Linked DNA regions of Homo sapiens. The protein of the gene in region 4 interacts with the protein of the main gene of each other region in a pairwise test. Each region holds a gene or a part of one and is shown on either strand. Other genes may lie near its edges.

The links.
Region 1: the proteins of SHTN1 (region 4) and FABP3 interact in binary tests that used the Homo sapiens proteins (3 or more experiments, as listed by UniProt).
Region 2: the proteins of SHTN1 (region 4) and EXOC6B interact in binary tests that used the Homo sapiens proteins (3 or more experiments, as listed by UniProt).
Region 3: the proteins of SHTN1 (region 4) and BBOX1 interact in binary tests that used the Homo sapiens proteins (3 or more experiments, as listed by UniProt).

The regions. Positions count from the first base shown.
Region 1 is NC_000001.11:31,370,060-31,377,418, reverse strand, and holds the start of FABP3 (fatty acid-binding protein, heart), read left to right. Parts: upstream 1-4,342; 5' UTR 4,343-4,404; coding exon 4,405-4,477; intron 4,478-7,359. UniProt on the Homo sapiens protein: FABPs are thought to play a role in the intracellular transport of long-chain fatty acids and their acyl-CoA esters.
Region 2 is NC_000002.12:72,179,018-72,186,041, reverse strand, and holds part of EXOC6B (exocyst complex component 6B), read left to right. Parts: intron 1-1,854; coding exon 1,855-1,967; intron 1,968-3,136; coding exon of another isoform or gene 3,137-3,152; exon of another isoform or gene 3,153-3,189; intron 3,190-6,580; coding exon 6,581-6,707; 3' UTR 6,708-7,024. UniProt on the Homo sapiens protein: Component of the exocyst complex involved in the docking of exocytic vesicles with fusion sites on the plasma membrane.
Region 3 is NC_000011.10:27,035,996-27,043,833, forward strand, and holds the start of BBOX1 (gamma-butyrobetaine dioxygenase), read left to right. Parts: upstream 1-4,819; 5' UTR 4,820-5,033; intron 5,034-5,220; 5' UTR 5,221-5,483; intron 5,484-5,804; exon of another isoform or gene 5,805-6,065; intron 6,066-7,838. UniProt on the Homo sapiens protein: Catalyzes the formation of L-carnitine from gamma-butyrobetaine.
Region 4 is NC_000010.11:116,883,185-116,890,208, reverse strand, and holds part of SHTN1 (shootin-1), read left to right. Parts: intron 1-3,642; coding exon 3,643-3,865; 3' UTR 3,866-7,024. UniProt on the Homo sapiens protein: Involved in the generation of internal asymmetric signals required for neuronal polarization and neurite outgrowth.

The DNA.
Region 1 (7,359 bases), on a different chromosome or scaffold from region 4:
TGCAAGAACTCTCTCTTGGGGTCTGGATTGGGACCCCTTTCTGGTAACAAAGACCCCATGGACCAAGGGCATAAAAAGAAGGGATGTCTAAGACTTGCTGGTTCTATGGCAGGCAGAGGCAGAAAGAGCCCCACCATCATTCCCAGCAAATGGGAAAAGTTCCCAGTTGCAGATATTAGGGGTGGGATGGGGCGGGGGTAGTCAGCAACCATAGACTTAGACCCTGAAGAGGCAAAAAAGGAGGGCCATGTTCTTGGGTCAGCAGAGCTTCTACTCAGCTTCTTCAGCCTCTAGCTCTTTCCTGGTGCTAGTAGCACATTCTCTAGTGGAGGCATCCAGATGGCAGGGAGGGTCCAGGAAACAGCTGAACATGCTGAGCAGGCCTCCCTTGTCCCCGCTCCCCATGGCCCCATGGATCATCCGGTGCTGCAGCTCATCTCATTGGCTGGCTTCTGGTTACTCATCTCTCCTCTTCTCCATCTTCCCAGCCTGTGGTTGCCGTGGAAACATAGAACAGTGACCTCACCATAGGATGAGGGCTGGGGAGATGCTGTTCTTGGCAGGCGCTGGTCTTGCTGCCTGCCAGATGTTATATCCACATCTGGATCTGCCAAGGGCAAGACAGAGGAGTACAAAAAGGGACAGGGCTCACATTCTTCCCCAAATGTAGTCAGCATAACAGAGGAAGAGGATGCAGGTAGATCAGAGGGATGAGGAGAGAACTGTACATACTTAGAAGGGAGAAGGGTGTAAACCAGGAGGAAAGGAGATGGGGTGTGGCTTATGGGTTAACCTCGGTGACCCAGGTCTGAGCACCATGGCGAGGTGAGGGAAGGGCAGTGAGGGTAGTTGGTCTGAGGTTTGTCGAGTAGAGCTCCTCAAAGCCCCGTGCTGCTCAATTTGGACAGGCCCAAGAGAGGGAGCAAATGGATTTTCTGGCAGTGACCCCACCCCAACCCATTCTGAAAAACCTCTATAGCCCCTTTTTCAGTTGAAGCCCTTTCTAATCCTGTCCCAGAAATAATAAAACTGAGGATTAAAGAAGCAAAGCAATCTGCCTCAGGTAACTAACTCAGTAGGTAGTGGCAGAGCTCAGACTAGGTCTTAGGTGTCTGCACTATCCCTGGAGACAATAACAATAGCAGCAGGAGGAGCAGCAGCAGTGAACTTTCGTAAGTCAACCATGCTTAGCATTTAAATGTATTATCTCGGGCCAGGTGTCGTGGCTCACACCTGTAGTCTCAGCACTTTGGAAGCCGAGGCAAGCAGATTGCTTGAGGCCAGGAGTCCAACACCAGCCTGGGCAACACGGCAAAACCCTGTCTCTACCAAAAAAATGCACAAAAAATTAGCCAGGCGTGGTGCCATGCGCCTGTAGTCCTAACTACTCAGGAGGCTGAGGTGGGAGGATCCCTTGAGTCTGGGAGGTCAAGAATGCCATGAGCTGAGATCATGCCACTGCACTCCAGCCTGAGTGACAGAGTGAGACTCTCTCCAAATAAATAAATAGGCCAGGCGTGGTGGCTCATGCCTGTAATCCCAGCACTTTGGGAGGCCAAGGCAGGCGGATCACTTGAGGTCAGGAGTTCAAGGCCAGCCTGGCCAATATGGTGAAACCCCGTCTCTACTAAAAATATAAAAATTAGCCTGGCGCGGTGGCCCGCGCCTATAGTCCCAGCTACTTGGGAGGCTGAGGCAGGAGAATCACTTGAACCTGGGAGGCTGAGGCAGGAGAATCACTTGAACCTGGGAGGCAGAGGTTGCAGTGAGCTGAGATAACACCATTGCACTCCAGCCTGGGTGACAGAGTGCAAGACTCCATCTCCAAAAAAAAATCCCTTCATTTTAAAGATGAAACTGAAGCTGGCGTGGTGGCTCATGCCTGTAATCCCAGAACTTTAGGAGGTCCAGGTGGGCAGATCACCTGAGGTCAGGAGTTTAAGACCAGCCTGGCCAACATGGCGAAACCCCGTCTCTACTAAAAATACAAAAATTATCCAGATGTGGTGGCAGTTGCCTGTAATCCCAGCTACTTGGGAGGCTGAGGCAGGAGAATTGCTTGAACCCAGGAGGTGGAGGTTGCAGTGAGCCAAGATCACACCACTGCACTTCAGCCTGGGCAACGAGACTCCTTCTCAAAAAAAAAAAAAAAAAAATGGAGACTCAGAATGGCTTAAGTGAATTGCCCAAGGCCACACAGCTAGTACCCAACAAAATTCAGATCAGAACGCAGATCTGCCAGCAGCCATTAGCCCAGCCCCAGCTCTCCATCATTGCATTACAAGGGCCACATAAGGAGTCAGTTCTAGTTCCTGGCCACACAGTCCTTGAGAGGAGGCCCTATGTGTGAGGGCTGCGACCTTGAGTCAGAAATCATCTTTTCCCCCTCCTCCTCTCCTGGCACCTGTTCCAACAGTGAGATCACCAAGGCTCCATGCCCAGCCCTGAAGCCTGTCCCTATAGCTTTGGCAGAAATGAGCCTCTGAGTCTTCTGGCAACTGGACCGTCCAAAGGAATCAAGATCTTAGGGTGGGGAGAGGGCTCTTCCTCCCTGGCCTTGTTCTCAGAACAGTCCAGGGAAGGGAGGCAGGGTTTGCACATGGAGAAACAGAGTCCCAGGAAGGAGGGCCTGCCATACTCTACGCACGTGGCAGGCCTCTGGGCTCCTGTGTTGGCTCCTGCAGGCCCACCCTGGACAGGCTGCTGCTGGCTGAAATTCAGTTCGGCACTACTCCTTGGTGTGCAGGGCCTCCTGCCATCCCTCAGAAATTCATTTATACCTCACTTCCTTTGAGAAGTCTACATTGGGCCCTCAGGTCAGGACAGGACAGGACTCCCTTTAGAGGCACCACGCTAGTTTTATGTCTGGCTGCCCAGAGGTGAATGTGTGTCTTGTTCCCTGTTGTCTCTCTCCAAAGCAGGGCCTGGCACAAAGTAGGTGCTTTATTAACTGCTGAATTAATGAGTGAGCTCCTCAGAGCTTCAACTTGTTCACCTTTTTAAAAAGAGAAAATAATACAGTAACACCTACTTCATGGATTTTGCTTTAAAAGTCCAATGAGGCCAGGTGTGGTGGCGTGTGCCTATAGTCCCAGCTGCTGGGGAGGCTAAGGTAGGAGGATCCCCTGAGCCCCGGAGTTTGAGGCTGCAGTGAGCTATGATGGCGTCACAGTACTCCAGCCTGGGAGACACAGCGAGAGACTTTGTCTCTAAAAAATAATAATAAAATAAAAAGTTCAATGAAACAATACACCCAAAGCCCTCAGCATGCAATAAATAGCAAGACAAGGCAGGTCTTATTTTTACTGAAAGTGCTTAGTAAACTATACAGTGACAAACCACCGCACAACAGGCTCTCGAAAGGAGGCAGCAAATTACCCAAAAGTGCAGGCGGCTTGCTAGTGTGCACAGGCCAAAGAAAGGGCGGCAGGTGGGGAAGGCAGCCATGGGCCTTGAAGAGCTGACCGAATTGGCAGAATTTCTGCAGGAGGGGAGCTGGGAACGACCTGAGCTAAAGCTCGGAGCTGTGCGAAGAAACCGGAAAAGCCCAGAGCACTTGCAGGGGCGGGTGGGGAGCTAGATGGTGGGGTGGGGTGGGGACGGAGGAGGGCCAGCAGGAGACATTCCGCAGGGAGGGGCAAGCACGTGTGAGGCGGGCGGGGCGCGAAGGGTCAGGCTTTTGCTCAAAACAGGCAGAGGACAAGGTCAGCTCAGCCGCAGACCGAGCCGCTGGTGACTGTCTCCGCCACCAGGCAGTGAGAGTGAAGGGAGAGCGCGAGCTCTGAAGCCCGCTAGACTAAGCTTGCAATCTGAGCTCCATTCACCCCCTCCTATTTCTTGAGACCTTGTCAGTTCCCCTGTGAGCCTCGGACTCCTCACTTGTAAAACGAGGACAGATGCCCGTGCCAGAAGTCAACCAGAGCTTTCCCCGGCGTGGGCACCAGCCCAAGGGCGTTTTGCTTTTCTAGTCTCATCTCTGCTCTGACGCTAAGCTCAAAGAGGGACTGGGGGACGGGAAGATATCCACCATGGCATGCGCCCTAGCTCTCGGGCTGGTGTTGGCTGCTTCCTTCTCAGATTCCAGAGTGCCTAGAGGCCAGGAAAGGGAGAAGGTCCTACCAGCCTGGGGTAGGGACTCGGGGGCCAGGCACTGGCGCTGACGCAGGCTAGCAGGGCGCCACTGGCTGGTCCCCACCCACCTCGGTGGGTTGGGGGATGGGCGCACCAGCCCCTCCTGGGTGAGCCCTAGCCTGGGGCTTCCTATTTCGGGAGCCGGGGGCGTGGGCCACGTCTCCTCATGTGATGCGAGGGCTATTTAAAGCGGCAGCCCGGGCAGGGAGCCGCCGTCGGAGCCCTTGCACGCCTGCTCTCTTGTAGCTTCTCTCAGCCTAGCCCAGCATCACTATGGTGGACGCTTTCCTGGGCACCTGGAAGCTAGTGGACAGCAAGAATTTCGATGACTACATGAAGTCACTCGGTGAGCAAGCCGCGGGGCTCAGGATGTTGGCTTGGGGACTGGCTGGTGGCGTGCCTAGCCCCACGCAGCACTCCTGCCGCATCCCTCCTGGTTAAGACTGGGGAATAGGGGAGCGCGGAGATGGCAGCCTGGCCTAGAGCAGGTGGGGCCTGTTCAGAGGGGGCTTTGGTGGTCCAAATCTGGTTAGAGACCACGGTAGGGAGGTGGTGGAAGGAGGCAGCTGTGTGGGAGGCTCTTTCCAGGAAGAGGGATATGTGATTTGGAGGTAGGAGGAGGGTTTGGATAAAGAACACTGATCACAGGAAAGGGAGTGTAGCCAGGGGAGAAAAAGAACAGGGGCATGGGTAGTTTAGAAATTGGAGGAGACTGAACCCAGAAAGGGAATGGGGCAGCCAGGGAGTGTACAATGATGTAAACAAGTAGGAAATACCTAGGAGGAAAAAGATTAGTGGGGAAAAAACTGTGGATCAGTGAATCAGATATGAGAAGGACGTAAGACAGGAACCTGCAGTAAGCAGCAATCCCCATCTCTGCTTGGTTAGGGAAGAGAATTCTTGCTGGAGAATGCCCTTTCTCACCAGCCAGTCTGACCTTGTCCTGCAGTCTATGTATCCAGGCCTTCATCACTGTCTGTGAGCCTCGTGGTAGGGTGGGGCAAGAGGCCCATGATCAGCTGGGCCTTTCCTGCAACCCAAGGCTCACCTATCTGTGCGAGGGGTAGGCAGAGAAAGCCATTGGACTTCTGATGTGCAGTAGAGGGTCCCAAGGCAAGGTCAAGACCTGGGAGGGAGGATCACTGGTTTAGGAGGATGTGGAGAACTGCTGTGGTGTTGGGATGGAGAAGAATCAGGATTCAAAGAATCTCACAGGTGAGGAACTTGGAGATTCCCATACCATCTAGTTCAACAGGGAAACTGAAACCAGGAGAGTAGAAATGTATTATAACAATTCCACAGCAGAGCCAATATGAAAATCTAAGGTTTCTAGATCTGTAACCCAGAGCTCTTCCCACTACCCTACAGGCCCTGCGAGTGGGAAGAAAAGTAGAAACTGCTTAGCTAATGATTGACCTCAGCCCTTCTTCTACTGCTTTGGGCTTAGATGGAGAGGTCAAAGCTCTCAACGGCCTCTACCCTATCTTGGGCGCTATGCCCAGTAATTCTAGGCAGGCAGTCATTCTTAGAGGAGCAGCCCCCAGCCCCCACGAACACAGCCCAGCAGCTATTGGGAAGTTGGAATGCCCAGATTTAGTTCCTCCTTCCAAAGCTGGGCCAGAGCTGAGTCTTGAATTGAGCTGCAACAACTTTACCATTCTTGTTCCCTTATTCTGCCCCGAGTTGGGTCAGCGGGCTGGTCTCCCTGAAGTCCTGTTATCTTTCAGCAGCTTATGTTAAGGCAGCCAGCATTCTCATCGTAGGAATGGAAAGCCTGGGAAAATACCCTCCTCAGCTCTCAGTAAGTAGTGCTGGCTTCATTTCTAAGTAGAACCCAGATCTCCCTGAGTCTCCTAAATTCTGTCAGCTCAATATTCTTAGTTTCTCTTGGTTCAGACCCTCACTCATCCCGCAGTGGTTTCCTTTTCAAACACTCCATACCTCTGGGTAGATCCTAAGTGAACAGAGCTCCCAGTGCCGTGACAAGGTCCTGCTCTGTGCAAGGGAGTGTGATTGGCCTGACTCATCCTGATACCAAGGGGCAATGCCAAGTTCCTCACTGGCCAAGCAAGGGTGGGCTGACAGCATAACAGCAGAGGCAGCCCCTGCCCCTCCTGCTGTAGACCTAGGGCTCTCAAGGGGCAAAGAGGTCCCGTCTAGTACCAGTGACCACAGGCACAACTGCTGGCCTGGATTGAGTATGTGCTGGACAGAATCGCCCAGTGAAAATAGTCAACAGTTTTGGAGCCGAGGTTCAAATCTATGTCAGTAGTTTATTCTCTTTGAATTTCGACAAGACACTTCGCACTCTTCATTGTAAACTGGGGATAATCTACGCTTCGAGGCTGTTACAAGCATTAAGTAAAACAACCCATGTAGGGCATGTGCAGAGTACCTAGCTTCCAGCAAGCACTATGTAGCCAGGTACATTTGGAGACTTTACACACACCACCTCACTACACTGGGCTGCCTCCTGCCTCACCTTTGCCTTGGAAGACAGTTCAATGTTAAGCTGCTGGGGGGAGAGGGGGCAGTCATGATTAGTTCTTTGTTCTTTACTTGGTTGCAGGACACTTAGGACTTTGCCCAGTACCCAAGGAAGCCATGCTTGGGTCAGGAAGAGAGTCTCTGTAAAGCCTTAGACTGGGAGTCAGGAGACGGGTTTGAGTCTAACTCATTGTTGCTACCGCTTTAGGCTCCTCCTGAATCTGCACAATAGGACAAATACTTCCTTTGTACCTAACTCCTAGATCATAGATAACAGGCTTTGAAAATGATGGGTTGCCATGTATAAGGGACAAGAGCACTAACACTTCTTAGTTTCAGGGTAAAAACTTCCAAAGTTGGAAAACTCCTATGCCTAAGGCTTTGGAAGGGAAAGTCTATGTTTCTCTTCTTTCCTCAGCCTTATTCCTAAGGCTTTGAGAGCTTTTCAGGTGCCCTGGAAGGCAGCCTTATGCTCCAGCCTTGGGAGGTAGTATAGCTGAGCACTTAAGCAAGCTCTGGACTCAGACAATTCTGGGCTTCAATCTCAGATTTGTGACCCTGGGCTTTACCTCTGTTTTTGTATCTGTAACGTGGAAACAGTCTTCAGAAGAACAGGAAGAACTAAATGAGATAACATGTACAGTTCTTACTACACAAAAAGCTCATAGTACTTAATAGTAGCTTTTTTTTTTTTTTTGAGGTGGAATCTCACTCTGTTGGCTAGGCTGGAGTGCAGTGGCA
Region 2 (7,024 bases), on a different chromosome or scaffold from region 4:
GGAAACCATCATTCTCAGCAAACTATCTATCGCAAGGACAAAAACCAAACACCTCATGTTCTCACTCATAGGTGGGAATTGAACAATGAGAACACATGGACACAGGAAGGGGAACATCACACACCGGGGCCTGTCGTGGGGTTGGGGGGAGGGGGAGGGATAGCATTAGGAGATATACATAATGTAAATGACGAGTTAATGGGTGCAGCACACCAACATGGCACATGTATACATATGTAACAAACCTGCACGTTGTGCACATGTACCCTAGAACTTAAAGTATAATTAAAAAAAAAAAAAAGAAAGAAATACTGATACTAGAGTAGAAAGTCAAGGGAAATTCTCTTCTAAAGGATAACTCTCTGAGGCCTTGGGTCAACAGAAGGAAGTGGTAGAAGCCTTTTAACTTGCTAATGAAAATAGGCATGACCTGAAAATGGCCTGAGGGGCCGTTTGGGACCATCCTGGCCCAGACCAACCAGTGTGCCTGTCTCTCCCCCACTCCTTCTCTCATCTCTAAAATCCCTTTCTTGGCTGAGGGTATAGGGACTTTTCTAAGTTTTAGGTTTGGGACTTCAGCCAATTCCCATCCTGCTTCAGGAAGTTCATAACAGCTATTCTAAGAAACTGGATGAAGTGGAGACTTGGCCAAACAGGGCAAGGCCCATACTGCCTGTTTGCCCAGCTGCACAGTGAAGACAGACATGGAGGAAGGTGTGCCTAGAGCCCAGGCTCTGGCATTGGATATGACTGCACTCTTGGCCCTCTGCCTTTGTTCTGCACAACCAGCCATCTACTTGTCCTCATCAGCACTTACCTATCTCCTGGAAAGGGAGAAATGGAGAATGTCTTGAGTCAAAAAGTACTGTGAGGGTTCTCCCTCTATGCAGTGATATGAGTCTGGGACTGTGCCCCTTCTAGAAGCTTTTATTTGTTTGTTTTACTTAGTTACAATTTTTGAATATTTGTTAGTGTGATGTCTGAGGCTAAAACTGACTGGGAAGGAAAGCCTTTGACAAAAGTTTAGTTTCTCTCAGTCAAAATCTCCCGTGTCAGAACTCAGCTCACCCTCAGAAAGCTCTCATTGTCTTTTCACACATCTAGCTCTTGGCACTTCTCTTTAACACTCATAACCCAATTCTAGCTAGACTCTGTGTCCTCAATCATGGGCTAATCTACTATGGCCCTGATTTCATCTTCTTAGCCTGTGTCTGCATAGACGTAACACATATTGCCTCTTATAAATGCTACATGATCCATTTATGCCTTGTTTCAGTGTTTCTGTGTTATCTGTGTGTCCTATTTGTATATAGGCATGTGTATATGTCTGTATTACCTAAGTCACTTGGGCTAAGTCAGTACAGCAAGTCACAGAACTGATACTTGAACCCAGACCTTTTAACCTTGAAGTTCAAACAATTGTATATGTGGCACTGGACTACATCCACCTTTATTTGTTCTTTGTTGAATACTGAGAATGGTTCTTGGCATGTTGAAGGCATTTGATAAGTATTTATTAAATGAGTAAGTGAATAATTATTATGATATTATTATCATATTTGATTCAGTCCCGTGTTAGTTTCTTTACAGGGTTGCCTCTGAGAGCTGACTGCTGGCATATAGTCTTAGCAATGTTTCCATACTGCTTATGGCAGAGATAAGTCTGCCATCTAATGTTTACTCACTTATTTTCTTGGTTGAAAGAATAGTCTGCAGCTGTTCTTTTTCTTATTATATTTTAATTTTTATATATCCAATTTATTAGCTGGTAGTGAAGGATGATGAAGTTTCTGGAATCTTGGTTTGTCTTGTCTGTCTGACTAATCCCTGGGGTGGGGTTTGGATATTTTACAGCTTTTGGATCTTTTCATCCAGTGGGATTGGTCAACCTACCTTGCTGACTATGGTCAGCCCAACTGCAAGTACCTCCGGGTAAACCCAGTGACTGCTCTGACCCTGCTTGAGAAGTGAGTACCTTGTCCAATGGTCTGTGTTGGGAGGTGGGGAGACAGGGATTGGGGGTTGGCGTAGAAGATAATTTTGCCACTGCCAATACCTTGAAAGATAGCCTTGTTCTGGAAGTTGCCATAGGCCCTGGGTGCTGTCAGCAATCTCAGTCACTGGACTTGGCAGGCCAGTCTTCCTCCTGTGGCTTATTAATTCCTGAGCCCCCAACAAGCCAGGCCAAGTATGGATCAGAATTGGATTCTGACATTACCTTCTAGTTTAATGGGTCTCTTACTAGCGTCTCTTACTAGATATGGCAAGAGAAAAAAAAATGGCTCGGTTTGGGGCTCAGGCCAGCCTGGTGAACAGAATGAGGCTGCCCTAGTCACCTGGGGTATGATGATGGATAGTGCAACTCCACAGAACAGATGGTTTCTCTGGTTCCTAGTAGAGAATCCCTGGAAATTATTTAGAATTATTGAAACCTTCATCTGTTCCCAGCTCCCACCCCCTGCCAGACTGAGCTTTATTGTGCTGACTATCCCAACAAAGCTGTGTTGGAGAAGGTGTCTAATTCTTGCCTTAAGCAGTCACTAGCCTGCAGAGGGTTCCCTGCCACAGAGCTGTAGCCTCTCTGAAGCAGAGGTGCTACCACTGAAAGTAAGTTAGGCAGCTCCAGGAAATCTCAGGGCTAACAAATATGTCACCCAGAAGCTGGGAAATGCTATGTATTACAGCCTGGCTCTGGCTTTGCTAATCTATTAGAGAGCTGGCAGGTCAGAGACCAAGACCCATATAAAAAGGCAGGTTTCTCTTGAAATCTGAGAAACTAGTTAAGCCCCAGCTACTTGGAAGAATGCCCTGCATCTAGGCAGTGTAGGAAGTCTACATATATGGCCAGTCAACCATGTCTCAAATCCTAGGAAGACAAGGCTCAGAGTCCAGGAAGTCAGAGTGGAGCCTTAAGCAGAAGGAGAGGTCAAAGTCTATCCTTCTTACTATGTAATATGAAAGGGGGAGAAAAGGGGAAGAGATGAAGGGTAGGCAAGAGCATGATGCAGGTGTATGTATTTGGAGCCAAGAGACTAAAAACTCAGACTGCAGTTTTCTCCTGACCACGTCAGAGATTGATGTTTCCATTTTAACTTTGTTTCCCATGGTTCTCTCTCCCACTGACCTTCCGCCCTAGGATATCTAGAGAGTAAGTATATTATTCACTTGGGCCTTTTCCATCACTTTGAGGCAAGTCCTTCTGGTTTCCTCATTGACACTAATGACTACACTAAAATCCCTAGCCTCTGAGTTGTCCCCGCCCTGACATACTAATCTACTAAACCAGCCTGGTGCCAACTGGCTGGCTGCCTTCTCTATCCTTGGCCCTTACAGTGACCCTTGGCTTACTAATTCCTTTGGGGCTGGGAGTGGCGGCAGGGATTTTCTCCCATTGTGCCAGGTAAAGGGTTGTTCCCATTCAGCTTCTTGGCACACTCAATACTCTTGCTAGTGTGGGGCCTGAAATAAAGCCCTGACCGAAGGGAGCTCCTCAGCAGCCTCCCCTACCTCTTGGTGGCTTTAAAATCTAGAACCTGCATCTCTTATAGAAGACCCTTTATTAGAGGCAAGGCTTAATCCCACAGTTCTTGGTGCCAAGCTGAAAGAAGGGAACATTTTGACCTTTGAGGTGGTGCTTAAATGGTCATATTTAATGGTCATATGTGTCCTTCAAATGGGCTCTGGGATTCCCTTCAGTTATTTACATCTCTCAGCAGTCCTTTACTCCTCCGTTCCCAGGAATCTCTGGATCTAGGAAATACTGGCTTATCCACTCCCTATGGCTCAACAATAGTCTAAAATAATTAGCCTCTCCCTACCATTCTGGAGCGTTGGCCAGTAAAGAAACTATGTGCTTAGCCCTAGCAATCAGAAGAGTTTAAAAGCTTCCTTCCAAACACAGCAGAGCAAAGGGCATCCAGATCACTACAATCCGTATCTCCCAGCCTCATAGGAATTGACCCCTTTACCTGACCTATTCCTGCTTTTCCACAGCCAGTTCTACCATCAGATCTTGACTCTCCTTTTCAACCTGGCCCTTCTTAGCAGGGCGAAACAGAAAGACAAAAGACCTGCTAAAGACATTGAGGGAAAAGAAGTGGCCCCTGCATCATTGAGAGGTGGCCATAGCTGTTAATAAAGTAGAACAGGATATTGGGCTTTCAGAATGGGATGGAAGGTGGGAGGGCTGACTTTTGTTTTTGGAGCATTCCTGAGTAGAAACCAGCAGGCCACCACTAGCCCTCAGGGTACTTGAGTTTATCTTTACAGTGCCTAGTTCCAACTCCAGGTCTTAATGGCCAAGAAATTCTAGCCTTTGTGGCCAAAGACTACCCTCTTTCTCCTAGATAATTACAGGAGCTTCCCTGTGGGAGCCAAAAGCCAGCGGGCTGCCTGTCTCTCAGCTGCTTCCAGGAGTCATGAAATTAATGATAATGTAGGATATTAAACTAAATGTCCTATGAATATAGGAAGTGGTTTTCTTCATTTCTTTTTGTTTGTTTTCTGTTGTTGTTAATGTTTAGATATATTGTATACTCAGCGGAGGAAAGGGAATCTTTCTTTGGAACTATCTAAAACTAGGCCAGTTCTACAAATGTAATTGTGCAACTAGTGTGTTAGGGAACAAATACAGTAATTATCAGAGTCTTAAGGACCCTCGTGCTTTCTCTTCAACTAGCGCAGTCACTTCCCCTTCTTCTTCCCTTCCAAGCACAGGCCTCCACATGTGGGTGGTCGTACCTTATATTCAATGTTCTGAGTTTGCTTGATGAGTAATTCCAGCCTGAAGGCTCTTGAGCTTAGATTAGTGAGATAATTCTTTTTTTTTTTTTTGAGACGGAGTCTCGCTCTGCCACCCAGACTGGAGTGCAGTGGTGTGATCTTGGCTCACTGCAAGCTCCGCCTCCTGGGTTCACACCATTCTCCTGCCTCAGCCTCTCGAATAGCTGGGACTACAGGCACCTGCCACCACACCCGGCCTACTTTCTGGATTTTTAGTAGAGATGGGGTTTCACCGTGTTAGTCAGGATGGTCTTGATCTCCTGACCTCATGATCCACCCGCCTCGGCCTCCCAAAGTGCTGGGATTACAGGCGTGAGCTACCGCGCCCAGCCGAAAGAATTCTTAATTAGTTTGTGGCTATCACTGTTAGCCAGAGCCATACAGCTGTGGTGCTCATTAGAACCTTTTTGCCATATATAATGCCCTTATGGAATATATATATTGTAAATTTATATCATATATACCAAACATAAATGCCCCTGTGGGAATCTCTGGCTTTTTGACTCACTGGCCTCTAATCTGCTCCTCTGCAAAGGGCCACCCACAGTGGGGGAGAAAATGGTGCAGGATTGGCCCAAAGTCCCCTGGGAAATAGCCTGGGGGCAATTTATAGCCCGGTGCCATGTTCCTTCCCTCCTCTCTTCTAGCCTGTCTCCATACAGCCCAGGGAGCAGTGAAGTCAGAGGGCTGGCCCAACTCTGGTGAAGACTGGCCTGCCCCTATCCCAGAGAGAAATCTGTCTTGGCATGTTCTCAATTGTCTAACACTGGAACTAGCTGTGGGATATGGGTCTGGTGTGCAGCAGCTAGGACAAGAGTTAGTGGCCACCAATAGATGTCAGAGGTTGTGGGCCCTCTGCAGGGAATAGCAGATTCCTGAATTCTGTCACAGTTGCTTAGTCAGACTTGGGGGTTCTGTGACCATCTCAGCCTAGTCTTGACTTTCTTGTCCATGTTTCCCAGTTAGGGCTGTCTGTCTGAAAGAACCACTGGCCAGAATTACCCATGGTTTGTGTTCTAGGAATATGCCATCTATGAAGCTTTAGCATGACCCAAAGGTCAAAGGTCCAGGGGTACAGACAGCCATTGAGAACTCAAAGGCTTCTCATGTAAAAAGCTCTGGTTTATGGAGTGAGAGGATGGCCCAGCCATTTGGCCCATGCTTTCCTCAGCACTCTACTCTCTTAGCCACCACACCACCTATGTGCCTTTACCCTGAGACGAAAGGAAAAAGGTCAGTCAAGCCCTTAGTTTTGTTGGGGATAGGATAGAGTAGCCAGCTAGAGTGAGGTTTAGAAATATACAGTGGCCTTCAGTTATTCATGTTCTGTTGGAATTGCTAGTTAAGAACACTTTTCCTGCTTTACCTTTCAAATATTATCTCAAAGGTCCTATCAGGATTTAGTAGGTTCATGAGGTAATGAGTGGATCCTAGACATTCTATAAGGGCTTATTGACCAGCAGAGCTGTTCCCTGTCCCAGACACCTACAGCAGGTACATACCTGCTGAGAGAAGAGAATGAATTAGGTGGAGCAGGTATAAGGGGTAGGGAGATTGACCCCTCCAAAACTGGGTCTTGACCAGTTTCCAAAGGTGACTGAAGTTGGGAGGGCTATAGGTGCCAGAATGCCAGCTTCCTGATGAGTAGGTGAGTGTGGGCCTGACAGTGGAGATATTCTGGACTCTCTCATTACTCTGGGTAGTGGTTAAGATGCATTGCCATCCTGCTTCCTGCAGGTTCTCCTTCCACCATTGTTTCCTCAAACATGTTGCCCTCTTTCTTTCCTTCTCTGTTTAGGATGAAGGATACTAGCCGCAAGAACAACATGTTTGCACAGTTTCGGAAAAATGAGCGAGACAAGCAGAAACTCATTGACACCGTGGCCAAGCAGCTCCGAGGACTCATCAGCAGCCACCACTCATGAAGGGTGACCCCGGACCCACAGAGGCGACCTGCTGCAGCCTCTGTGTCAGTCTGGGGTCCAGCCCCAGCTGACCCTGCATTTGTGCATTCTTCTTCAAAGAGAGCATATGTATTTTTTTATTAACCCCTGTGCAGTATTCACATAACATTTCCCTATAGTAAAAGAGGCACAAGAATAAGCAAGTACATGAGATGTTGCTAGGCTGGGACTCAGGGGAAGTTATTACTACACTATCTGTGTTATCTTAGAGATGGTGGTATCATCAATTCCACAGTGATGAACCACCTTTCATCCATGGCTCTAAAGCTTAGGTCTGG
Region 3 (7,838 bases), on a different chromosome or scaffold from region 4:
AAGTCAAACTATCCTTTTTGCAGACAACATAATCTTATATCTAGAAAACTTCATAGTCTCAGCCCAAAAGCTCTTTAAGCTGATAAATAACTTCAGCAAAATCTCAGGATAAAAATAATCAGTATACCAAAATCACTAGCACTCCTATACATCAACAACAGTCAAGCTGAGAGCCAAATCAGAAACTCGATTCTATTCACAATTGCCACAAAAAGAAAAAAATACCTATGAATACAGCTAAAAGATATCTGCAAGGAGAACTACAAAACACTGCTCAAAGAAATCAGAGATGAAACAAATGAAAAAACATTCCATGCTCATGAAGAAAAACAATAAATGTCATTAAGATAGCCATAATGTCCAAAGCAATTAATAGATTCAGTGCTGTGCCTATCAAACTATTAATGGCATTCTTCACAGAACTATAGAAAATACTTTAAAATTCATATGAACCAAAAAACAGCCCTAACAGCCACGAATATCCTAAGCAAGAAGAATTGAGGAGAAGGAACTCCCTCTTCTCCAAAGCTGGAGGCATCATGCTACACAACTTTAAACTATACTATAGGGCAGCAGTAACCAAAACAGCATGGTACCAGTACAAAAACAGACAAATAGACCAGTGGAACAGAATAAAAGCCCAGAAATAAAGTGGTACACCTACAACTAGCTGATCTTCAACAAAGCTGACAAAAATAAGCAATAGGAAAAGGATTCCCTATTCAATAAATGGTGCTGGGATAACTAGCTAGCCATAAGCAGAAGATTGGAAACAATAGGAAAAGGTCTCCCTATTCAATAAATAGTGCTGGGATAACTAGCTAGTCATAAGCACAAGATTGAAAATGGATGCCTTCTTTACACCTTATACAAAAATTAACTCAAGATTAAAGACAAAAATTTAAAACTCAAGACTATAAAAACCCTGGAAGACAACCTAGGCAATACCATTCTGAACATAGGAATGGGCAAAGATTTCATGCTGAAGATGCCAAAAGCAATTACAACGAAAGCAAAAATTACAAATGGGATCTAATTAAACTAAAAAGCTTCTGGACAGCAATAGAAACTATTAACAGAGTAAACAGACAACCTATACAAATGAGAGAAAATATTTGCAAACTATGCATCTGACAAAGGTCTAATACCCAGCTTCCATAAGAAAACTTAAGCAAATTTATAAGAAAAAGCAAACTACATTAAAAAGTAGGCAAATGACATGAACACTTTTCATAAGAAGACATACATGCAGCCAAAAAGCATATGAAAAAAAGCTCAACATCACTGATCATTAGAGAAATGCAAATCAAAACCACAATGAGATATCATTTCACATCCAGTCAGAATGGCTATTGTTAAAAAGTTAAAAAAAAAAAAAAAACAGATGCTGGTGAGGTTACGGAGAAAAAGGAATGCTTATGTACTGTTGGTGGGAGTGTAAATTAGTTCAACCATAGTGCAAAACAGTTTGGTGATTCCTTAAAGACCTCAAAACAGAAATGCCATTCAACTCAGCAATCTCATTACTGAGTATATACCCAAAGGAATAATTCTATCATAAAGACAAATGCAAGCATATGTTCATTGCAGCACTATTCACATAGAAAAGACATGGAATCAACCGAAATGCCCATCAATGGTAGACTGGATAAAGAAAATGTGATACATATACACCATGGGATACTATGCAGCCATAAAAAAGGATGAGATCATATTCTTTGCAGGGACATGGCTGGAGCTGGAGGCCATTACCCTTAGCAAACTGATACAGGATAGAAAACCGAATATTGCATGTTCTCACTTATAAATGAGGGTTAAAAGATGAGAACACATGGATACACAGAAGAGAACAACAGGCACTGCATCCTATTGCAAGGTAGAGAATGGGAGGAGAGAGGGGATCAGGAAAAATAACTAATGGGTATTAGATCTAATACCTGAGTAACAAAATAATCTGTACAACAAACCCCCATGACATGAGTTTACCTATATAACAAAGCTGCATCTGTAACCTTGAACTTAAAGTAAAAAAAATTAAGGTATAGTTGGCAGGTAAAAATTATATACATTTATGGTGTACAACTTGATGTTTTAATGTATGTATATACTGTGAAATCATGAAATCAAGCTAATTAACATATCCATCACCTCATATACTTATCATTCTATGTTGTGAGGACATTTACTATCTAGCCTCTTAGCCATTTTCAAGTATATGAGATATTATTACTAACTGTAGCACAGTAGGTCTCCTGAACTTATTAATCCTATATGACTAAATTTTTGTACCTTTTGGCCATCATCTAGCCACTCCCCTGTCCTCACTCTCATGCCCTGACAACCACCATACTACTCTATGCTTCTATGAGTTTGACTTTTTTAGTTGCCACTTCTAAGTGAAATCATGCAGTGCTCATATTTCTGTGCCTGCCTTAATTCACTTAGTACGTGTCTTGCAAGCTCATCCATGTTGTCACAAATGATAAGATTTCCTTCTTTTTCAGGGCTGAATAGAATTCCATTACATACACACAAACACACACACACACACACACAGAGACACACACATAATATATTTTCTTTATCCATTCATCGATCGATGAGCCCAGGTTGATTCCCCTTATTGATTATTGTGAACAATGCTGTAATGACATTGGTCTAGGCAGTGGTTTTTTGTATATGACCCCAAACACAGGCAACAAAAGTACAAATAAATGAGGTGGCATCAAAACAAAAAGCTTTTGCACAACCAAAGCAACAGTCAACAGGGTAAAAAGATAATCTATGGAATGGGAAAAAATATTTGTAAACTATCCATCTGACAAGGAGTATCCAAAATATATAAGAAACACTCAACAGCAAACAACTCAATAGAAAAAAAATCTGATTAAAAAATAGACAAAGTATCTGAATAGACATTTCTCAAAAGAAGACATACAAATGTCCAACAGATATATAAAAAAAAATGGTCAAATCACTAATCATCATGGAAATGTAAATTAAAACGCAAACTACAATGAGAAACTACCTTACACTGTTGGAATGGCTTTCATCAAAAAGACAACAGATGAGTATTGAAGAGAATGTAGAGAAAAAGGAATCTTTGTATACTAATATGGTTTGGCTCTGTGTCCCCACCCAAATCTCATCTCAAATTGTAATCCCCATAATCCCCACATGTCAAGGGAAGGATCTGGTGGTGGGTGATTGGATCATGGGAGTGGTTTCCCCCATACTGTTCTTGTCATAGTGAGTGAGTTCTCACGAGATGTGATGCTTTTATAAGGGGCTCTTCCTTCATTCATTTGCTCTCTCTTGCCTGCCACCATGTAAGATGTGCCTTTGCTTCTCTCTTGCCTTCTTCCATGATTGTAAGTTTCCTGAGGCCTCCCCAGACATGCAGAACGATGAGTCAGTAAACTTGATAAATTACCCAGTCAGGTATGTCTTTATAGCAGTGTGAGAATAGAATAATACATACACTGTTGCTGGAAATGTAAATTGGTACAACCGTTATGGAAAACAGTATGGTGGTTCCTCAGAAAATTGAAAATAGAGCTCTCATATAATCCTGCAATCCTACCTCTGGATATATATCCAGAGGATATAGAATAAGTATGTCAAAGAGATAGCTGCACTCCCATGTTCATTTAAGAAGCTTCTTACAGTGGAGAGCAGAGTTTTGATTATTTACCTGTTTCTGAGAATCAATTCTTTATGTGCAAGTCTTTAAACTTTATTAACAGATTTACTTGTCGGTTTATTTATTGTTTGTTCTATTTAATCATTCCATTAGAAACTATTTATATCTGGCACATTCTTGTCAGCAACTTTCTTAAAGCTGAAACAGAATTTACCTAATTTATTCCAGTAATTGTTACTAAAGTACAAAGTGTAAAGGAAAAATTCATTGTGTATATTTCTGTGATGTCATGAATTATTAAAATATAATTATCTGATTGCTTTTGGCATACTTATAACTTCAGTTACCGTGGGTTTAAGATGCTGGTCACATTTATGACGGCACCCACATATACACACCCTCCTCTCATACATGGAAAACAAAACCTGCTGTTGTTTTCACTGGCCAGTGGGTGTCAGTAATTTGACCTGGAGACTTGGGGGAAGAAAGGAGGAAAGTGGAAAAGAGGTTCCTTTCTTCAGATGCAGGGAAACAGTTTAAATTTTATTGTTAAAGGATCTGAAAAAACATCGTTTAGGGAGGGGATGCTGACATTCTGGAAGGGGAGATTTCCCATAAAGGAGGCCACCAGACAGTTGGGCTGCATTTTCTCTCTGTGTGGCTACCTCTTGTTCTTTTTTGACTGAGTCTCACTCACAGCCCTGCGAATCCTTCGGGCAAGAAGCAACAAGTTGCAGGCTGCTTCTACATCTGCCTAGGAAGAGGGTGTTAGGTGGGAGGAGGGCAGATGACTCAAGCGTCTCTCTCCTGGACCTTAGTTTCCACCTGTAGACTTTCTTTTAATGTAATCTAGACTCTGTTAGGACCTAGGACCTGAGACCAGTCCAACAGGGTCTCCCCCACACTGGGCACTCTCCAAGAGTATGCCTGGCAGTCAGGCTCTGAATGCTGGCATGCTGCCTATTCTGGCCTTTCCCTTTTGTTGCCCTAAGGGCTGTGTGTTGTGAATCAAATCACTGGGCAACCAAGTACCTTCAAAAACAGCCCCAAGCTCTCTGGAAACTACTTCCTATTCCAGCCAAAATTGCAGAGAAAGGAGGGCATCAAGCTTAGGGGACCAATCCCTGTCTTTCTACCAGTCCCTGATAACTACTCAAGCTCCCTTTAAAGAGGCTCATATTGGAATACTCTGTTGACAAGTAGATACCACTTCACCTCTGCTAGGGTGAGCGCTGGTAGCTCCTCCCTGTTAAATGCCCATCTCAATGCCTCTGCCCTAAGTGAGTTGTGCAATAAATGAGCTGTCACTCTGAACAGGTGGGAAAGAAGTGAACTGCTTGTTCACTTGCTGCTGTTGCCACTGCTGGTACAGAAATAGAAGGTAAGACAGGTGAGAACTGCTTTTCCTTCTATCAAGAAAGATTCCAAACTGAGGCAATGCTTTGCATTGAGTCCTGGGGTTTTGTGGTTTTGGGAACCAACAGTACTCAAAGTATTTTCTCTTGCTAACTGCTTCCCCTCTAGGCCATAAAGCCTCTTTTCTTTCTTTTTTTTTTTTTTTTTTAAAAAAAACACAGCACAAAAAAACAAAGACAAAAAACCTCCAAGCTCCCTTCAGTAGTTGCTACACCTTCAGATTGAGACATCCTTCCTCATTTACAAACCTCAGCTGTGTCTGGGGGCAGGGCCACAGTGAAACTGCCAGGAGCAAAAAGGCTTCCAAGAAAAAGTACCACATCAGATTGGAAACTGGGGACAGATCATTCCTGGGATGTGACGGGCACCAGAATGCTCCCTCTCCAAAGGATCTAAGGACCAAAGCTGACAGTTTCTTTACTTGGTAAGTTTTGGGTGGTTTGCTGTGTAAAGCATATCTGAGAACAGGTATGATTGAGCTCATCTTCCTTTTCTCCTTATTGCAAGGGTTTGTGAATTCAAGTCTGTGGACTGAGGTGGTGGGGAGCATCCAATTAGAACTCCATTCACATGTAGCTCACAGTCATGTGGGCTGTGCTGGGGATGGTCCATCAAGCATTTAGAATAGGCTTGGTTTTGGAATGCAGTGGATCTGATTGCTTCTTGGCAGCTTCTCTTTCCCAATTATGTTTGGCTTAGTCTGATAGTCAAATTACTTTATAATCCCTAAGCTGATCCAGAAAGTAAACAGAAGAGACAGAGAGAACGCTGTCTAAAAAGAGACTGGGGATGGGGCAAGGAGGATTCTGGTTGGATTTTCAAAATGTTCCCTGAATAATCCACAACCCATCCCAAAGAATGGTGACTGCATATGATACCCTAGCTCTTTGTTAAGCTCAAAAAGCTGACTATAACATGCCTCTTTAAAATGCTGGCCAATTAAAGCCACTATGCACATCTTCAATTGTTTTGTTCCCTTAACGAAGCTCAAGAAGGTATATTACAGGTATGGATTTGATTAAAAACGTAAGGTTTCTCATAATGAATATATGTTCTGGTTTAAATAATTTAGAAATTTTCCTAAAATCTAAACCCAGTACTTTGCATTACATCAGAAAACAAAGCCTTGATAATTTGATTTCCAATCTGAAAATGGTGATTCCACTAAAGTGAAGCTAAAGTTTTCCTTTGTATAATTTACAAATGAAGTGTTTGCATGAAATTTAATGCCTTAAGCAAGACAGGCAGAATTGTGAACCTATTTTAGAGAATGCACTGGTTTTTCTAATGGCATTATTTTTGTTGTTATTGTTGCTGAGATGGGGTCTTGCTCTGTCATCCAGGCTGGAATGCAGTGATGCAATCACAGCCCACTGTAATCTCAAACTCTTGGGTTCAAGCGATTCTCCTGTCTTAACCTCCCAAGTAACTCAGAGTATGTGTATGCACCACCATGCCTGCCTAATTTTCTTTTGTAGATATGGGGGTCTCACTATATTGTCCAGGCTGGTCTCAAATTCCTGGCCTCAAACAATCCTTCTGCTCCGGCCTCCCAAAGTGCTGGGATTACAGGCCACTGTACCTGGCTTCTAATTGCTTTATAGAATTCATTATTCACATGAGAATATATTCACAAATTGTTAAGTATCTCAGCCACTTATTAAACCAAGTTTAAAAATAATAATAATAACCATTTTATAATTTTAAAAAGATTTCAAGTTGAAGAACCTTAGGTAGCAGGTGTCTTGAGTAGAGTATGTATGTACTCAAATGATGTCAAACTGCAGGCACTACAAATATTGTCTGGTCAACCTCCACCTTACCAAGTAAAAATTAATTGATTTTGTTATTTAAAGGTTAAAATATAAAATAATAACAATGTAGTTAAGCCTTCATGGTGTAATGTCTAGAAAACTTCTTGCCCTTTCTCTCCAAAGCTGAAATGCCAGATGGTGAGGTTAATTAACACACAACAATCTTGAGATTTAGCTACTAATTTTTTATTTTTATTTATTTATTTTTTTTTTGAGACGGAGTCTCACTCTGTCGCCCAGGCTGGAGTGCAGTGGCGCGATCTCGGCTCACTGCAAGCTCCGCCTCCCGGGTTCACGCCATTCTCCTGCCTCAGCCTCCTGAGTAGCTGGGACTACAGGCGCCCGCCACCACGCCCGGCTAACTTTTTGTATTTTTAGTAGAGACGGGGTTTCACCGTGTTAGCCAAGGTGGTCTCGATTTCCTGACCTCGTGATCCACCCACCTCAGCCTCCCAAAGTGCTGGGATTACAGGCATGAGCCACCACACCCTGTCCTAATTTTTTTTAAGTTATACTTTTAAGTGCTGGGGTACATGTGCAGAATGTGCACGTTTGGGGTACATGTGCAGAATGTGCAGGTTTGGGGTACACGTGCAGAATGTGCAGGTATACACATGCCATGGTGGTTTGCTGCACCTATCAACGCGTCATCTACATTGAATACCCTTTATTTCTTTCTCTTGACTAATTGCCCTAGCATTTCTCCTAATGGTATCCCTCCCCTAGCCCCCTACCCCGCCACAGGCCCTGGTATGTGATGTTCCCCTCCCTGTGTCCATGTGTTCTCATTGTTCAAGTCCCACTTATGAGTGAGAACATGCAGTATTTGGTCTTCTGTTCTTGTGATAGTTTGCTGAGAATGATGGCTTCCAGCTTCCTCCATGTCCCTGCGGAGGACATGAACTCATCCTTTTTTATGGCTGCATAGTATTCCATGGTGTATATATGCCACATTTTCTTTATCC
Region 4 (7,024 bases):
GTGGTCTTAGTCCTTAGAGGTTGCATTAAAGTAGAAAAAAAAATTGAACAGAATGACAGTATATTACAATTCCCATTGAAGTGTTGCATTTGAGCTTCTGGGATTTCTACCTTGGGGAGAAGCTTCATATTTAACCCTCTAGAACCTGCCACCATGACTACTAGAGTGAGAACTTGGGTTCTTGGCACCATCACTGATGCGGCTCTGTGGCTCTTCCCATACGATAGGAATGAAGGTAGAATGAGGCCTAGGAGAAAGAAAGGACTCTCATTCCAGAAGGAGTCTTGGGCAGCTGCCCGTGGGAGCCAAGAGTGGACCTAGTGATGTCAAGCCAGGAGGAGCTACAAACCACAGGGGAAAAATTAAAACTAAGGGATAGCTTGAAGGGATAGACTTTATTTACAGATCTGGAAGATGGAGATGGAAACGGATTCGGAAAGAATGAAATCAGTAAACATGCCAAAAACTAGCCTGTAGCCTCCTGTTTCTAGGAGAAGATGCCTTTGAGAAACAGCATGCTGTCATGGAAAAGGCAGAAACAGGGAGACAGGAGCTTCTGACTCTTGTTCTGACTCTGCCACTGATGAGCTGTGTGGTTTCGGGCCAGTTCCTTCCCCTCTTCATGCCCCATCATCCTCATCTGTAAAAGGACAGGTCAGACTAGACGATTGCCCTAGTCCCTTTCCACCTTCCACTGGGATTCTAAGGCAGTGGTCATTATCCTTGAGAAACCAGTCACTCTCCCTCCATGCCTAGATTCAGAAAATGCCCACTGCGCCTAGTTCAGTGATAACAAAGGGGTTCTCAAATTGTAGCCTATAAGTGACTTAATAATAGATTAATCTGCAGTCAAGAAGCTTGCTTCAGGACAGGGAGATCGTTCTTTGGACTGAGACAATTCCAGGACAATTTCAGCCTGACAATACTAGGTTTATGAGTTTTCAGTTCAATCAACATCCATGTATTGCTGCTGTGGAGCCCAGAGAGCACTTCCTGGAAATTTTTAGCCCTGAGCTGATGAAGAAAGCTTTTTCTAGGATCTGTGCACCACCCCTTCACCTACAGACACACACGAGCATGGAAACATCCATGGTAGTTCTACAGAAGTGATGAAGGTTAGTATGGGTTGATGGAAGTTGCTCACCTAGAATGAGAGAAATACTACCTCCTTTGCATGCTGAAAGCAGTTTGACTGGCTTACATAAGAGTGGGCCCAGGCCCAAGATGGTGAAACCTTCGTACTGGTGACTCAATCTGCAGACTTGGATGGGACTTTCCCTGGAACCTTAGCTGGGCTGCAGCTTTATTTCCTAGAATCTCCTCACCTGTTTGTTTTCAGTTTAGAGTTGCCGACAGATAAATCTGCATGAGATTTAGAAGGTGGAAGTGAAGTAGTTGTCTTAAAAAAATTTTTTTTAACCCTCGGAAGGTCCGTGTAGGGCAGGCTCTGTTATAGCTTGTGCATGACATTCCTGATGTGCTGACTCACCTAACTGGCATGTGGCAGTGACTGGCCCACAGTTTCTCCAGCTCCCCACATCTCCTCCTCCAGCTTTTCCAAATCCTGGGGCAGGTGCATGTGCAGCTCCTTGGGGAAGGCTCCTGCTTATTCTGCAGATTGTCTTGCATCATCAAGATTGGTGCTTGTGAGAGAGAGATAGGTGCAGCTCTAGTTTGTCCCCAGTCTCTGTCACTTTACAGCCGCCTTCCCTCCCAACTGTCAGAACAGCTGACTGCAGGCCCAGTGTCAGACGCAGAAGCAGCAGATTTACACAGACGGCATGACTAGTGCCTCTCATTCCCTAAGGTCTGATTCCTCTGATCAATCCTTAATATTACTCATAGTTGTTCTGCTTCTCCCATCACAGGCTTTTAAATATTGTGTGGGTCAGAGAGAGTCAAAACAGGTACCACTGGAGAAACTACACCCCATTCTGATTCCCAAAGCATAGCGGCAGATGTCTGGAGAAGTAGTTCCTTGGCCAAGGTAGATGGACAATGTCATGGTGCCATAATCAGGCAAAAATAAAGGAATCTGTCCTCACTACAGCACAGCCTGTCCCCAGGCTCCTGATTATTTTTGTTTTTACCACCTCCAAGGAAGACATAGTGTTTGTCACTTAGGATGATGACCGAGCCACACATAGGTAATATAACCCAGTAGCCAGAGGGAGTGGTTTTTAAACATTTGGACAGATCTTACAGTACTGGTCAGAAAGTGAAAAAAGCAGTGTGGTCTTTGGGTTTGAGGTTTTGTGCCCGTGACCGGGTCATGCAGGTTACTTTTGCTCAGTAGTTGATCATTTGTTCTGTTGTTTTTGTTGCAAGAGAGACATCCAGACCTACTCACACCCAAACCTTGATTTCTCCCCCTTCATTCTGAACCCTTCAGTTTATTAGTATTTGCCCATTCGTTTAGTCCACAAATGCATCTGTGCTAGGTGCTGGGGATAGAATTGTGAGTAAAGCTAAACAGTCCCTGCCTCGTGGATGTTTACATGCTATTGGAAGAGACAGACAGGAAACAATTGTGGTAAGTCCAACAAGGGAGAGGTATTAGGTGGTAAAAGAGTGTCTCCTGCCAGCTCTGACCTGCTGAAGGGGTCAGAGAATAGTAGAAACCAACTCCTGGTGAGGGGCTGGTAGAGCAGTGGGCAGGCACTGGCTGGCAGCTCACTGGCACCTGGCGGAACACCAAGAGGTGGGATGGTGGTGTGCCGGGTCATGGTTAACAGCCAGTTCTCAGGGACAAAAAGGCCTGATCCTAGCATTTTCCAAAAAGACCAGAAAAGTCCGAAAGCCCCAGCCCTGCCTGCTGCAGCTGCCTCCACCTTCAGGCCGCAGCTCAGCAGCCTGAACCTTCGGGTGTTTCAGAGATATCTGTTCCCATAATGAAATCCTCACCCATTCAGCCTGAGAAGCCATAGCTTCTTGCAGCAGAAGAGACGAGAGAAGGAGTCTGTGGAAAACTGCCTCTGAAATTCCATAAGAAATTTCTCAAGAAACCTGATTCTCCTTTTAGAAACATTAATGGTAACTTAGCATTTTAGCTTCTACTCTGGCTCTCTCTCCGCCCTTGGTCCTACCACCACCCCCTCCTGAAGTCTGACCAGGTCTCCTCTAGTTGGTAATGGCAGCAGTCAGCATGCCTCTCACCTGTCCATCAGTGATGAGGGGTGATTACTCCCCTTGTCCCTGCAGGCTCCTCAGCACTACCCTGCAACCAGCCATACCCAGGGACACACAGGAGGGAAGGGAGTTAACTGGCTCCATCCAGCTAAGTGAGGGCGGGTGGGGGTCTGGGCAGCAGGCTGTGAGAAGTTCACAGTTTGTCCATGAGCTTTACGCTTCCTGAGAAGAGAATGCAATTAAGCAGGTAGGTGCATTTGGCTTTTTAACACTTCTGTAGTTAATCGCTCTTTCTCTGCCTTCTTTCTTCTGGCCTTGTGCTCCTAGTATCAGCTGTGTAATCTGATAGCTTCATTTTTTCTTTTAAATGGCTGGCATCTCAAAGACTACTATATGCATGTTGATTAGACTTAGAACATTTTGGGTTTTATGTTAGTCTGAATCCAGAATATCAGAGACAACTATTTTCTCTCTCTGCTTTTTACTTTTTTTGTCTAACTCTTCATCTCATAGGCCTCCCAGTAGCATTGGATGCAGGAAAAAATACATTGACGGTGAAAAACAAGCCGAACCAGTTGTAGTTTTAGATCCTGTTTCTACACATGAACCCCAAACCAAAGACCAGGTTGCTGAAAAAGATCCAACTCAACACAAGGAGGATGAAGGCGAAATTCAACCAGAAAACAAAGAAGACAGCATTGAAAACGTGAGAGAGACAGACAGCTCCAACTGCTGATCCATAAACCAGAAGCCTGACATGTTTGGAAGTCCTTTTCAATAAGCACATGATTAGTGTTGTTATATTGGCAAGGGCTGTAGACATTCTGCTCTGGTCACTGTATTCAGAATACAGGTTCTTTTCTGGTGTCACTTTTGTAAGTAGCAACTATAAACATAAGTAAGCTGTTTAGCAAAACACACATTCCTAGTAGGTTTTGGTTTTTTGATCTTTATAAAGATGAGGTTTTTTTCCTAGTTACTGTATTAAGTATGACTTCTTTTAGAAGGTTACAAAAAAATTCAGATGTTGATACCTTTTTAGGAAATGTGCATACCACTCATCAAATGGAATGCTGAAAGTTTGAGGTGCTTGTATATAATCGGATAAACAAAACTGATCAACCCAATGTGATTTTAAAAGCCCCCAAAGAAGCTTCTGTTTTGGGTCTGATCCTCTTGATGGAGAAACTGCAGCAGCATGGAAATTGTTGGGTACTGTGGCATACAAGTTATTTTCTACAGTAGACTGAGATAAACTGAAAACTCAGGAGCTGGCATCAAACTCGTAGTCCCATAGTCAGTGTTAATTACACACATTGTTAACTATTGGATGAAAAATACATGCTATTGATTGTGTCCAAAGCCTCCCGAGGACCTCCGTGGGGATGCTCTGGTAGCCTGAATACAGAACTGAGGTGAAAGTCCAAACCTTGAATTTTACAGTAGTAAGTTGGTAAACCATGTGCTCTGTGCTATGAGTTAATTATGTTTTCCCAAATACTAATGTGGCACAAGTACCATATTTTATCAGAGTTCTTATGTACAGTATGGTGAAGATAAGTGACAAGCACACATTTTTCTTGCTTCACTGCTGTTCTATATTACACAGGTTTGTTGTTGTTTTTTTTAAAAAAGAAATTAAGCAGTAGTTAGTCTCTAAAAATACAATGTTTCAGGCTACCACAGTGAATAAATAGAAATGTAATCAGGGATTAAAAAAAAAACTTATGCAGCTTTTCAAAGTTGATTGTTTCAAAATTGGTGTTTATTTAAAATAAGTGGTAATGTACTTGAATGCACTTTTTATGACAATGATTCAGTAATGGTAATTTTACTATTAAAGAAAGTGAAAGGTTTAGTTTTGTTAGCATGGCTCAGCATGTAGCTGTCAGGTGTTTTTCACCTAAGGGCAAAAGAAAATGATAGTAATAATTGCAGTAGTTGTATTGTATTGTATTTTTGCACGTGTGGTAAGCATAGGCTTGAAGAGGTGGGTAGGCAGGTACATGTACTTCCTAAATTTGGAGATAATTATCTTTCTGTAAGTTCGTTATGCTTGACTGTTTCCATGTTCTCCCAATAATGATTTTATAGTTACTTATCACTTTACTCATGGAGAATTAAAACGTAATGTTTTTCAACTGTATCTTTCTTTAACTGGATAATACTGCTATATGATATGCTTACTACAGACTGCATTAATTCACGAAACGAATTCTGTTATGCTGTAATTTGAACTCTCCTCACCACAACTTATTAAAAAGGCACCAATAGTTTCCCATTAAGGGTCAGTTGTGGTTATTATTAACGTTTCTGGTTTAGTTCCCCAAGCTTGACATTCTTTAATAGAAAATTGTATATGATTTGACAACTTTAGTAATTTTTAATAGTCCCTAAGATGGTTTATTGAGTTTTCTTTCATGTTTCTTTGTGCTGTCTTCCTTCTTGCATCTGTGATCTGTCTGCCAGCATGCAACTCACACACATTTAGGAATATAAAAATATGTACACTGTCTTTCCATATTTCATCACACCATCACAGAATAATATGGTTATCAAAATACCCTCCTTTCTAGAGTAAGAAGTTGCCCTTTGGGTGAAATGTGTTAGCTGGACTAGGGAACAATTAGTAACAGGTATTTTGAAAGTATTCCTGCCTTTTTTAAGCTGCTTACTTTCTCTCACTGTGATTACAAAGCATTTTAAATTAATTTGACATGAAGGTATTTGATGGAAGATATTCACTCACCTTTTTCTGCCTACAGTTTTTCCCTTTTCACTTTGGTTTTGAGGGGGTTTTGCCCCTGGCTGGGGTGACACTGTCAACCAAAGCAAGGGATCCCAAATAGGAAGACATAGGAGAACCGTGCTTATATCTGCAAGGTATGTTCATAGCTATTGCACACACAAAACTTACATACGTCCTGCTTACACAATTTTAAGTTGGAAAAGACTGCATCTTTATGTTTTTGATTTCTCTAAAAGGTTATTTATGCTTCCTTCTGTTTGGGAAAGATAAATTAAGTCTTGTGCGCTATAGAGGATTTTTTTTCTTTAAGAAAAACGAATGTTGATGCATTTTATAGCCCGAGTGAGGAACAGAGATAGAGGTACTTTGTGCCATTGCTATTAAAGAAAAAGAAAATGTCTCTTTTTTTTTCTGGAAGAATAAGATTTTAATTAAAGCACTTGCACCCTTTTGTATGTGAGCTGGTCTCAAACAAAGTCCTCACCCACAGCAGTTTCAGCAGCTGAACAGTCCCATGGAAGTTCTGACTGGCAGGCATCAACAGGGCTATTAGCACCCAGCATAGTTTGCCCTGAGTACGGAGGATGGATGCTTTGGCTCTAACTACTCACCAATAATTGCTCCTTCCTTACCTTCTTTGTTAATGGTAAACTGCTGGAAATGGAGTAGTACAGGTAACAATTATTTTTAATTGTCTTTCCAGACCAGTTTTTGGTTGTGTGTTCAGTAAATGATAGTCTGTATCACAGCCTTCAAGTCTGGATTATTTTTCTAAATGCATACTCTACCTGTTCAGTTACACTCGTTGTGGAACAACATTAGCTTATATACCAGTAAGTTGTCGAGAATGGATAACCATCTGTCATTATCACTGACCTTCAAAGACTCATCAAGCAGTCCCTGCATAAGGATTGGAGTGGTTTGAAGTTTCTCTTCCAAGCACTAACATGTCCCTATCCCACAGTCATTTTAATTTGGTATGTGACTGTTTCTTTCATTTCTTTCACAGATAATATTATATATACAGTTATATAAATATATTTCATATTAAATGTTATATAACACAAGAGAGAGAAAGTATAAGTAGAAAGAGTGCCTAGCACCCTAAGAAATTTAAATTAAAATGCTAATTATCCATTGGTGAGT